Linked DNA regions of Homo sapiens: region 2 is linked to region 1. Evidence: fine-mapped expression QTL. A gene starts in region 1. The other region holds a variant in brackets. All regions are shown on one strand. Distances are from middle to middle.

Evidence for each region. PIP is the estimated chance that this variant, and not a neighbour inherited with it, causes the effect.
Region 2: its variant is the best candidate, but not a certain one, in a credible set for the expression of CCDC183-AS1 in whole blood (TOPMed, PIP 0.56).

The regions. Positions count from the first base shown.
Region 1 is chr9:136,805,748-136,811,105 of GRCh38, reverse strand. It overlaps CCDC183-AS1 (CCDC183 antisense RNA 1), which reads left to right and starts at 2,258. Exons shown (of 5, transcript NR_024580.1): 1 at 2,258-2,379; 2 at 3,904-4,277; 3 at 4,569-4,721; 4 at 4,978-5,056. It overlaps CCDC183 (coiled-coil domain containing 183), which reads right to left. Exons shown (of 14, transcript NM_001039374.5): 10 at 4,868-5,028; 11 at 4,434-4,602; 12 at 4,239-4,349; 13 at 4,040-4,136; 14 at 3,365-3,534. The coding sequence ends at 3,416. RABL6 (RAB, member RAS oncogene family like 6) reads right to left here and starts at 3,158. Exons shown (of 15, transcript NM_024718.5): 1 at 2,780-3,158. The coding sequence starts at 2,909. It also overlaps the pseudogene LOC100422233. RefSeq lists silencers at 2,347-2,876, 2,887-3,016, 3,037-3,096, 3,147-3,316, 3,517-3,746 and enhancers at 3,022-3,618, 3,619-4,214.
Region 2 is chr9:136,718,077-136,723,434 of GRCh38, reverse strand. It overlaps DIPK1B (divergent protein kinase domain 1B), which reads right to left. Exons shown (of 5, transcript NM_152421.4): 3 at 1,407-1,514; 4 at 1,134-1,310; 5 at 1-473. It overlaps LOC124900276 (cuticle collagen 2-like), which reads left to right. Exons shown (of 5, transcript XM_047424334.1): 5 at 1-5,358. The coding sequence starts at 3,160. The coding sequence ends at 4,095. Among named protein-coding and RNA genes, the nearest start is that of SNORA17B, 5.5 kb to the left of the region's middle. RefSeq lists an enhancer at 3,946-3,995. The variant T/C (reference allele first, on the strand shown) is at 2,544.

The DNA of each region.
Region 1 (5,358 bases):
CAAATATTTGACAGAGTTTGACTTTTTCATCCATTATGGTCCAATGTCTCATTCGAGTTTTTATTCTAAAACCAGTGGGTGTCCCACACGTCTACCGGGACCACTAGCAACTCCGAGCAAATGCAGGGCCCAGGAGGAGAGCCCAGACTCCTGGAAACCCGCAGCAGTTCCCAGAAACTCTCACCCCCAAAACCCTCGACTCTGTCTTGATCACATTGCTGGTCTGTTACGCTCTGTAAAATATTTGAGAAAATAAATACCAGAAAGCCGGGCATGGTGGCTTACGCCTGTAATCCCAGCACTTTGAGAGGCTGAGGCGGGCAGATCACGAGGTCAGGAGATTGAGACCATCCTGGCTAACACGGTGAAATCCTGCCTCTACTAAAAATACAAAAAATTAGCCGGGCGTGGTGGCCGGTGCCTATAGTCCCAGCTACTCGGGAGGCTGAAGCAGGAGAATGGTGTGAACCCGGGAGGAGGAGCTTGCAGTGAGCTGAGATCACGCCACTGCACTCCAGCCTGGGAGACACAGCAAAACGCAAAACTCTGTCTCAAAAAAGAAAAGAAAAGAAAAGAAATACTAGAAACTTTCTATTCTAACACAGAAACTCAAAAGTTTTAAAATTGCATGTTATTCAGCTATAAAGATAACATCTTTCTAAAATGTAATTTAGGTACAAATTCAAATTTCTCTCTGTCTCACCACCTTTCATTCAGTTCTAGGAGATCATAACCTGTTCTCCAAGTACTGGAGACTGGCTTTTCTCCTCTGGAAGGACCCCATTGCCCTTTTTAGTCACACTCGCCCAGGACCACACAGGGGTGGTCCTGGTGCATGAGGTGGACCTTGCCCAGGACCCTCGGGGAGCCTTTTCAGAAGGTGAACAGTTTCCAGGTCCAGGCCTGATTTCCCAGGGACTAATACTGAGCTTAGCCAATACTGTAAGCAATAAAATTAAATAAAGGATCCAAACGCAGAGTCTAAAAACTGGCGTAAACTCAGTTATTTTGACTCAATATTCTCTTCTCCGAATGCCAGCTATGTATAAAGTTTCAATTATAACACATTTAAAATCAGCTTTTATTTTTATTCAAAATGCACCACTTTATTTTCCTTACCAGACAGCCAAGCATTAAGCACGTTCCAGTCACGTGACTTCTTCAGCGAGCCCCCAGGCTTCCACTCCACGGGAGTCTGGGAGCTCCTGGACAGAGGAGTCCTGAGATTTCAAATAGTCAAGCCTTCTCCCCAGCCACAAGTTCCTTTGATGCTTGGGTTACTGAACACAAACGCAATGGATTGTTTGTCTTCAACATAATCCGTTTCTGTTCCTAAACGTGTTGGCTGCGCTTTCTTTCTGATGAGCACGCTGACTCTAATTTGAACTTCATCAAAATCTTCTTTGTCGTCGTATGTTCTAGAGTATAAGAAAAGCCAATACGGCCCTTGGTTCGGACATCAACTTTCTTTTAAATTTTTTTTTCGTATTTTTAGTAGAGACGGTGTTTCACTATGTTGGCCAGGCTGGTCTCGAATTCCTGACCTCGTGATCTGCCCGCCTTGGCCTCCCAAAGTGCTGGGATTACAGGCATGAGCCACCGTGCCCGGCCCGGACACCAACTTTCATACCTAGATGCTCAGACTTATCTTTAAGAAGTTGTTTTATCTTGCTTACTGCTAAAGGTGTCTGGGTGAGGGTGGCCCGAGTGGTCTGCAGCTTCCTCTTGCTCACAGGCCGGGGGACTAAGGAAGGCGACATCTTCACTGTCCTCCTGGACTAGCTCCAGCCCCAGGAACTACGGCCTCTCTCCGTGCACACGGCACGCGAATTCATGAACTTGCTTTTAAACCTGCACAAGAGTCTTTCTGATCATTAGTTCTTAAAATTCTACATTACCATGGAAATATCACGGAGGCTCTAAGGCTCCCCTTAAAGTGACCAAAAAACTGGATAGGCGTAGCGTCCTAAAACCTCATAGAAACATACGGAAATGGCTAAGAGGGAAGCAATGTCAAAACAGGGAACCACATAAAAGCTTTCAAAAACTACTGGGAAAGAGCCCGCAAGATGGAAAAACTCATAAGAGGTCGAGGACAATTTACACAATTTATAACAAAGGAATGGAGCGTCCCAGGCACTCAGGAGTCCGTAAATGACTCCTCCTTCCTACGAGAAATGGGATGTCTCCTACAGTCGCAAGTCAGCCCGTGCCTTCTGGAGCTTTTCTAGATACGTCTCTTACAAACGCTTCTTTTAAAAAAAAAGGCGAGAATGTGTGGCGTAGCTAATATTCTGTCTTCAAACTCAGTAGGAAGTCAACAAAGAAAAATCCCGCTGAAAGCGCCAAGGCCGGCTGGGTTCCCCGCACCTCCTGCAGGTGAGTGGTGCCCGGGGCTGGGCACCGTGGAGCGTCGGGGGCGCGGCGCCCCGGGCCGGCGGGCCCTGCTTGGCATTATGTAATCACCCCCGGGCCGGGCAGCCGGGCCAACCCCGCCGCCGCCGACCCGCTCCACTGCACAGCGCGGCGGGAGCGACACGCGGCAGGCGAGTGCGGCTGGGAAACGACCCGCGGCTCGGGGGCCGCGAGGACCCGGCCCTGGCCTGGCCTCTCCTCGCGTCCCCTGGCCCGCGCCCCCGCTCCCGGAGCGCCCGGCGGGCCCAGCGCACCCCACAACCGGCAAGCAGGTGAGACCGACACCCACCACCGCGCGGCGCCCGGGGCCTGGGTTCGGAGACCCGCGCGGCGCTCCCGCGCCCCCCCGGCCCGCCGCACTCACTGTTGTACTGCACCCCCTTGGCGAAGCGCCTCTGCAACGCCTGGTTCATGGACTGCAGCCCGGCGGGGATGTTCTTGTCCCGGCCCGGGGCCTGGTCCGACCCCACCAGCTTCTTCAGGGCGGAAAACATCTTCCCGCTCGGACGTCCCAGCCCGGGCGCGGCCGGCGAGCTCAGCGGCGGCGGGGAAGGGGTGCGACTGGCACCATGTCCCGGCGGCCCCGGCCCCCCCGGAGGCCGGAGCCGGCGCGGCCAGAGGCCGGGGTCCCGGCGGCGGAGCGCAGCCCCGAGCGGCGACTCGGGAACCTCAGCCGCGGCTGCTCCGCTCCGGCCCCCGCGGCCTCCGGCGCGACCGCTCTCCAGGAGTCAGCGCCGCCATCTTGGCGCCGGCTCGGCGGGACGGGAGGGGTGCGCGGCTACGGGGCGCCGCGAGGGCCGCGGGGGCGCGGCGCGCGCGGTCGGCGCATGCGCACGCGGTTCTGGCGCGCAGTTCCGGGCCCGGGCTGCCTCCTTACGCAGAACCTCCCCCGATCCTGCGTGTCCCGTGCTCCTCTCCGAGACCCCGGTCGCCCCAGCGTCCGCAGCAGTCCTGGAAAAATGTTTATTTGTGTAGCAAAGCAGGGAGCGGGGCGGCGGGGCTACTTCTTCTTTTTCTTGGCCGCCTTGAGCTTCCCCTCGATTAGCCGCTGCGCCTGCCTCTTGATCTCGGCGCGCGAAGGGACGTAGCTGTGGTCCATGTCGGGGAACTGGAAGGTGTCTGCGGGCGGAGGCGGCGGCTCGCACACGGGGCTAGCCCAGCTAGGCGCAGCCGCCCGACCCGCCTCTCGCCCCCGCCCTCCACCGACCCGGGCCAGGTGCCTTGCCCCAGGGACAGCCCCAGCGTGCCGGGAGGACTCAGCCCAGCCCATTCGCAGCGGCTCACGCTGCCCTGCCTAGCCTTTCCCGCAGAACCCCCAGTGGAAGCTCCGGCCCAGGCCTTCACCGCGCTCCTCCCTGCTCCAGCCCTGGTGCCTCTCCTCCGGGCCCGTCTGGCATGGCATGCCTCCTCCTTTCGGAGAAATTAACAAGGTATTTCAGTGGCTTTAGCCTCCCCATGGCATCACTAAGTCACCTCCATCAATTAAAGTCCTGCAGGTACAACTGATGCACCCTGTAGCCCCGCTGTCCCTCCAGGATGTCCCGGTGGGATGGGAGCCGGCGCCACCCCGACCTGTGTTCCAGCCACCCGCCTGCAGCCCGGGCCCCAGTTCCGGGGCCTGTACCGATCATATCCTCCTCCCGGTTCTCAAAGCTGATCCTGGTGTTGTACTTCTCCATCAGAGTCGAGGACTCCAGGGTGTCCCTCACCTTTGTGTCGCCCTGCAGGGCAAAGCCCCCTTCAGCCGTGCAGACACTCTGAACGGGAGCCTGTCAGCTTTGAGGGGACGTGGGCTGTGCAGGTTCCTCCCAGCCCGGGGCTACCTCCTCGGTCCTGGACACCATCTGCACTCTGTCAGCCAGGTACGTGAGCTTCCCCTCGCAGTACGCCAGCTTGCTGTTCAAATCGAGGGTGTTGGAGAGCACCACTTCTCTCTGTAGGCCGGGAGGAGGGTCTCATCTCCCCTCTGGCCCTGCCCAGGGACCTGGTGTGTGGCAGCTCAGCCTCACTCCCGGTACCTGGGTCGCAGGCAAGTTAATGCCCATCAGCCGGACATAGAGGTTGTCGATGCCCATCTGGATGGTCAGCAGCAGCTCCTGGCCCTTGGTCATGTTGCTGTGCGCCAGCTGGAGCCTCTCTTCTTCCTCTTTTAGCATGTCTGTCATTTTCTTCTCAACGGACTTGAAGCTGCAGAAGGCAATAGGGACACAGCAGTGAGGGGCACAGGCCCGAGAGCCATGGTGGGCCACCCAGGAGCCCAGTCCTGAGTTGGGTGCTGTGCCAGAATCAGGGACTCAGAAGCTCAGGTGTGTGCAAGTGGAGTCCCCTGGCCCCTCTGTGGGACACACAGGCTTGTTGGCAGTGGGTATACTCCCAGCTCCCAGCCTGGCTGCAGCCCGGGGCCTTTGTGAGACTGGGGTGGGTGGCCCGCAGCCCCGGAAGCCCGGGGCACCTGATGGAGCTAGGCTTCTGGCGGAACTTGAGCACGGCCTCCTCCAGCTCCAGCTGCTTCACCAGGGCCTTCAGCTGCACCCGCCACTCCTCACAGTCCTCCATCTGCAGCTCCAGGTTCTCCTCCGTGTTCCTCTGGGCCAGGAAGCGGCTAGTGATGTCCTGGCCAGTCCGGGGGAGAGAGAAGCAGGTGTGGGCCAGGATGGTGGGCAGAGGGGGCTTCACAGAACTGGTTTCTTCTGGGCCCCTCCTAGACGCTAGTGCACTTTCTCTGTGCTCATTCACAAGTGTGATCACAGCTCACTGCAGCCTCAACCTCCCAGACTCAAGCGATCCTCCCACCTCAGCTTCCTGAGTAGCTGGGACCACAGGTGTGCACCACCACACTTAGCAGGGGTGAAGCGCTTTGTGGATGTCATTGCACACGACCCTAATGGCAGGCAGAGAGGGTAGATAACCCCATGTAGAGATAAGGAGATCATCACTGAAGGA
Region 2 (5,358 bases), 88 kb after region 1:
ACCTGCTGCAGGTCGGCCATCTTGAAGTCGTAGGTGGCTGTGTAGCCCACGTTGGCCAGTGTGGTCTCACACATGTAGAAAGTCCCGTAAGAGCCGTGGAAGAGCTCCTCCACGAACTCCAGCAGGCCGATGGCGATCTTGGCCCGCCAAGGCCACGCAGGCCCCAGCCACTGCTGGAGAGCACCCTGCAGGGCAGGCGGCAGCAGTGGGCGCAACAGGGGTGGAAGGGCGGCCGCGTGCCAGGCGCCATGCGGCACGCCCTCGGTGAGGTAGAGGTCCCCACAGTAGCCCAGCAGTCTGGAGGCGTGCTCCTTCTCCTGCAGGGACAGCAGCAGCAGGAACTCGTTACGCTGCAGCAGGGCCCACACGGACTTGGCTTCCGCCAGGGACACCCGGTTGTCCTTGTTGAAGTCAGCCATGAGCAGGACCTGGCCAACCAGCGCCGGCAGGGAAGGCAGGTCTCCCAGGTTCGCCTGGCGTTTGGGACCAAAAGAAAGGAAAAGCCAGCTGATTTGATGTCTGGGAGCACGACCTGGCCTTTACCTGGTCCTCCTGGCGGGGTGGTCTGCCGGCCAGACCAGCACATCTGCCAGGTTAGGGGTCCCAGCCCACAGCTACACGGGTGGAGGACGCAGCCAGCAATGTGTCAGCTCACTCTGCTGGCCTGTGTGGCTGCTGCCAGACAGACCTCCCGCCTCCTGGCAGCCTTGGGTGCACCTGGGGAGCTCGGGGGTGGGCACCTGGGCAGAGAAGCCTCAGAGCTTCCCTGAGGATGAGAATCGGCACAGGGCAGAGGGCACGCACTGGCTGAAGCCCTGGGAAGCGGCCCCTTTCCACAAGCCCTGGTCTCCATTCGGGGCACCTGCCCTGCTGGACACACGGCCCTTGACTGCAGGAGCCTCCCCTCGACCTCAGCTGCCAGCCCACCGGCGCCCCCAACCCTTGCCCCCAGCCCTGGAGAGGCTCCTTCCCTGGCAGGGCTCATGCCCAGGGGCTGGGGGATGGGAGGTCTGCCCAGGGTCCACTTGGGCCCATCTGTGCCTTTGCGCTGGGCATGTTGGTGCCAGGGCCGCCTGCTGGGCATATGACCGTGGTGTGGACTCCTGCCCTGCCCCCTAGGAGAGCTGCCTGACCTTGAGGAAGCTGAGGGTCATCTCCCGGAATTCCTTGATGGAGGTGCCCCGGGTGGGCTTGTCAAACAGTACCAGCTCCCGCCGGGGGGCCGCATCCGACCGGGCCTTGGAGTCGAGGGTCTCCTCAATGCCACACTTGATGGTTACATCCTTGTCCCGCCAGAGCCCGCTGTACACCTGGACAGGGCCACAGAGGTCCTCCGTGCAGACATCCCCCTCCCACTGCACGGGCAGTATCAGCCCCAGGCCCACCCGCCCTGCCAGTGGCTATACCTGCTGGCCCGGGGCCACCGAGAGGCAGGTCCTCCACTCCACCATATGCAGCTCACACAGGTCCTGGCAGACGGAGCCCGAGATGATCCCCTTGCGGTACTGGTCACACTGAGGAGACAGGTGCAGGCGTGCCGGGCGGGGCAGCCACACCCCTGCCCCACTGAGCCCCTGCCCACAGGCCCGAAGCTGGCAGGGGCCTCCACTTGCTGCAGTTGGAAAGCTGCCAGCCCCTCACACAGGCAGTGCCGGGGCCCTGGGTCATGCCATTGGTGGCTGCAGGATGGGGCTGTCGGCTGCAGGGGCAGCCCCGCCAACCCTCCGGTCCGGTCCCGTCCCCACCATCCTGGCTCCTGTAACAGGACGGCACAGCAAAGGCCACTGCCTGGACATGAGACACACACCACACCCAGTGTCGACCCCACGCCAGGGCCAGAGGCAGGAACCTGGAGGCAGCTCTCCGCCCAGCCGACCCAGCTCTGGACCATCCAGGCATTGGCCGGTGAACTAGAATTCACACTAGTCCCTAATATCTACACCACCAGCTGCCACACGCGCGCTCTCTGCCTGACTCTTCATTCCTGCCTCGGGTGACGCCAGGAGGGAGGATGCACCCCCTGACTCATGGCGCCCTCCCTGCCCGGAATAGTAAGTGAGACATTTCTGAACTTGTTTCCTATGATGGTGCTGACTGGACTGCGTCTTCCATCTGAAGGGCCAGGAGCTGCCCCACCCAGGCAGGGCTTTCCCTGGGACGCCAGGAAGAACAAAAGGGTGGGCTCTTGGTGCCAGAGCGATGGATGGTCAGGCTGGCAGAACCTGGACAGGAGTCAGACACGAGCCATAGGGCCTCTGTCAGAGAAGCAACCCCCTGGACACAGGGCAAACAGCTGGGTGTCATCCCGTGAAGGGCACCGCGTCCAGCCCCTCTGCTCCCCGTCAGGGCGGGCTGCCAGCCATTCTGCACTGGGCACTCATGGGGGCTCTCACGACAGATCCTGATGCCCAGAGCCACACCTGCATGGCAGCTTCTGGCTGGGTTTCCACTAATCTCAGGTGTGGGTCTCCTCCTGTCCCAAGGACTTGGCCTCCCTCTTTGGCCCGGCCCAGCCTTCCCCAGGCTGAGGCAGGAGGACAGGC[T/C]GCGGCCTCACTGTTTGCCTCAAGTGCAGCCAGGACAGGGCTCACCACCAGAGCTGACAGTCTCAAGGGTACCCCTGGGGTGGAGCCGGCAACGGAGCCCCAGCCTCTACCTCCTCTCCCAGCCCTCCGAGGCCAGTGCCCAGGCTCAAGCGCTCCGTTGTCAGAGCTGTTTGTCAAGGCTGAGAAAACGGACCCCTGGGGCCCCACAATGACTCCGGGCCTGTCCTTCCCTGTCCCACAGGCCCCCTCCTTAGCCAGACCCCCAGGGAGACTTTGTTAGCAGTAATTACATCAGGCCTGGGGCTGGCTGCCGCCCCTCCTCAGCCCCCACCCTAGCTCCAGGGGCCTGGCAGCCCCTCAATCCCAGCGCCCCACGGGAGGTGATGGAGGGATGGAGCTGGCCCGCCCCTCTGGGGGGGGGAGAATTCCTGGATGTACAGCCTCAGTTGCCATGGAGCCTGGCCAAGCAGGCTTGGAGGGAGCTGGGGAAGGGAGCTGCGGAACACCCCGCCCTCCAGGGTTGGGGAGGAGGGAGGGTCCCCGCCCCCCACACACCAAGGATGGGGACAGAAGTGAGATGGGCCAACTGGAGGCCGAGGACCCCGCCACGTGAGTCATGAAGGCAGCGTCTGTCCCGGCAGCAAGAAAACGCCGGCTCTTCGTCAAGACAGAAAAGGAAAATGAAGGAAAACTGCACACTTGTCCAACCCTCCACCTTGCAGGCAGGCCCTTTGCCACCGGAGTCCACTCCCGTCCCCAGACCAGCCAGCTCCCTGCACCCAGAGCCCCAGACCACACAGCCCCTGCACCCGGAACCCCAGACCAGCCCCCTGCACCCGGAGCCCCAGACCAGCCCCTGCGCCTGGAACCCCAGACCACACAGCCCCCTGAACCCAGAGCCCCAGACCAGCCCCTGCACCCGGAGCCCCAGCCCACACAGCCCCCTGCACCCGGAGCCCCAGACCACACAGCCCCCTGCACTCGGAGCCCCAGATCACACAGCCCCTGCGCCCGGAGCCCCAGACCAGCCCCTGTGCCCGGAGCCCCAGGACCGCAGGAGGCTGCCCTGCTCCTGGCACACAGTGGTGCTGGGGAAGGAGCCTGTGGGCCACACTGCTGTCTGCCAGGCTGGGGCTGGGGCTGGGGCTCCAGGGTCCCCCAGGGGTGGGGAGATGGAGCTGCCTCCATGGTCCTGGGCACCTACCAGCACCTAGCAGAGTGTGGAGAGGCTTCCTCAGAGGCTGAGGCGGGCGTGTGCTTGGCCTCCTCAGGGCCCTTGCCGCACATCGGTCCCCTCACCGCCCAGCCTGTTCCCCGCCTGCAGCAGGGCTCAGTGGGGACTCACGGTCTAGTTCTTGGCCTCGCGAGGGCCCTGGTGGAAGCTGGGACTGGCCCTGCACTGCTGCTGCCTCGTTGTGTGCGCTGGGCCAGCCTCTGCGCCTCTCTGAGGCGTCCAATGCCCCCACGAGGCCGGGCAGGGAACCTCCTCTGGGAAGGAGGGGACGTCTCCATGGCCCCTGGGGTGGCTTCGGGAGAGCTGGGCTTGGCCTGACCTCTGGGAAGGCTCTGAGCAGCCAGGGAAACCCCCACTGGGCAAAGGGCCAGGGCACCCTGGGAAACCGACGCTGCAGCTTCCTCTTGTTTGTGGGGGCACCTCCTCCTGCTTTGCGGCCCGGCACCCAGTAGGTGCTCAGAACCTGCCTGGCCACGTGAATCCTCTGCTCACCCCCACCCGCCCCCACCCACAACATCCCGGCCCGGAGGTCCGGCCCCTCCACCTCCTTGGTCCTTCTAGGAGCTCCAGGGGTGCATCTGATCGGGGCACAGCCTTCCCCACCCATGGCCCCAGGACGAGCCCCATGTGCCACCCTCCGGCCCTGCTGGGCTCAGAGGCCCCCTGGACTTCAAGGGTGAGCAAGGCCTGGTCCAGGGGCCCGGAGGCCTCCCCTGGGCTGGCATGGGCTCCAAACAAGTCCTGGGCACAGAAGCTCTCCTAGCTCCGGACCCCACACCCCAGTCCTCCACTGCCACATCTGGGCCTTTCCACATGTGGCCCCCGTCAGACATGGCTCTGTGGGACACAGGCCTGCCCAGGCCCACCCGGCTAGCTTCATCCACCACCCAGTTGCCAGGAGAGGTGCTCTCCCCATCTGACGGAGGAGACACCGAACCTGGGGTCTCCCTGCACCCAATCACCCTATGACAACCCACAGTGGCCGCTGCTACAGGCCAGATCCTTCTATGCCCAGGCCTGACCCCAAGGGGAGTGGAGGCATCGGAACCCTGGTCATCGGGCAGCCTGGGGTCAAAATTCAGTGGGGGACCTGCCCAGTTCTGGGCGAGTCTAGGGTTTGCCAGGAAGACAGAGCTGGGATGACCTCCCCTCTGAGCTAGTCACAGGGTGTGGAGAGGGGCAGGGGGTCACCTTGGTGTGCACTCATGTGGACACGTTTGCTCCCAGACACACACATGCTCACATACGCCAGGGGACTTAGCCCTATCTCCCTGAGGTGGAGGCTGTGGAGGACCTTGCCCTGCCACCTGCCTCAGGGGACCCCTGGTCCCAGGGGGGCTAGCGAGGCCACTAAGGCCAGCACACGGGGGTCTCTATCCCGGACCAGTGAGGCCAGCACACGGGGGTCTCTATCCCGGACCAGTGAGGCCAGCACACAGTGGTCTCTATCCTGGACCAGTGAGGCCAGCACACGGTGGTCTCTATCCCAGGCCAGTGAGGCCAGCACACGGGGGTCGCTATCCTGGACCAGTGAGGCCAGCACACGGGGGTCTCTATCCCATCCAGTGAGGACACCACACG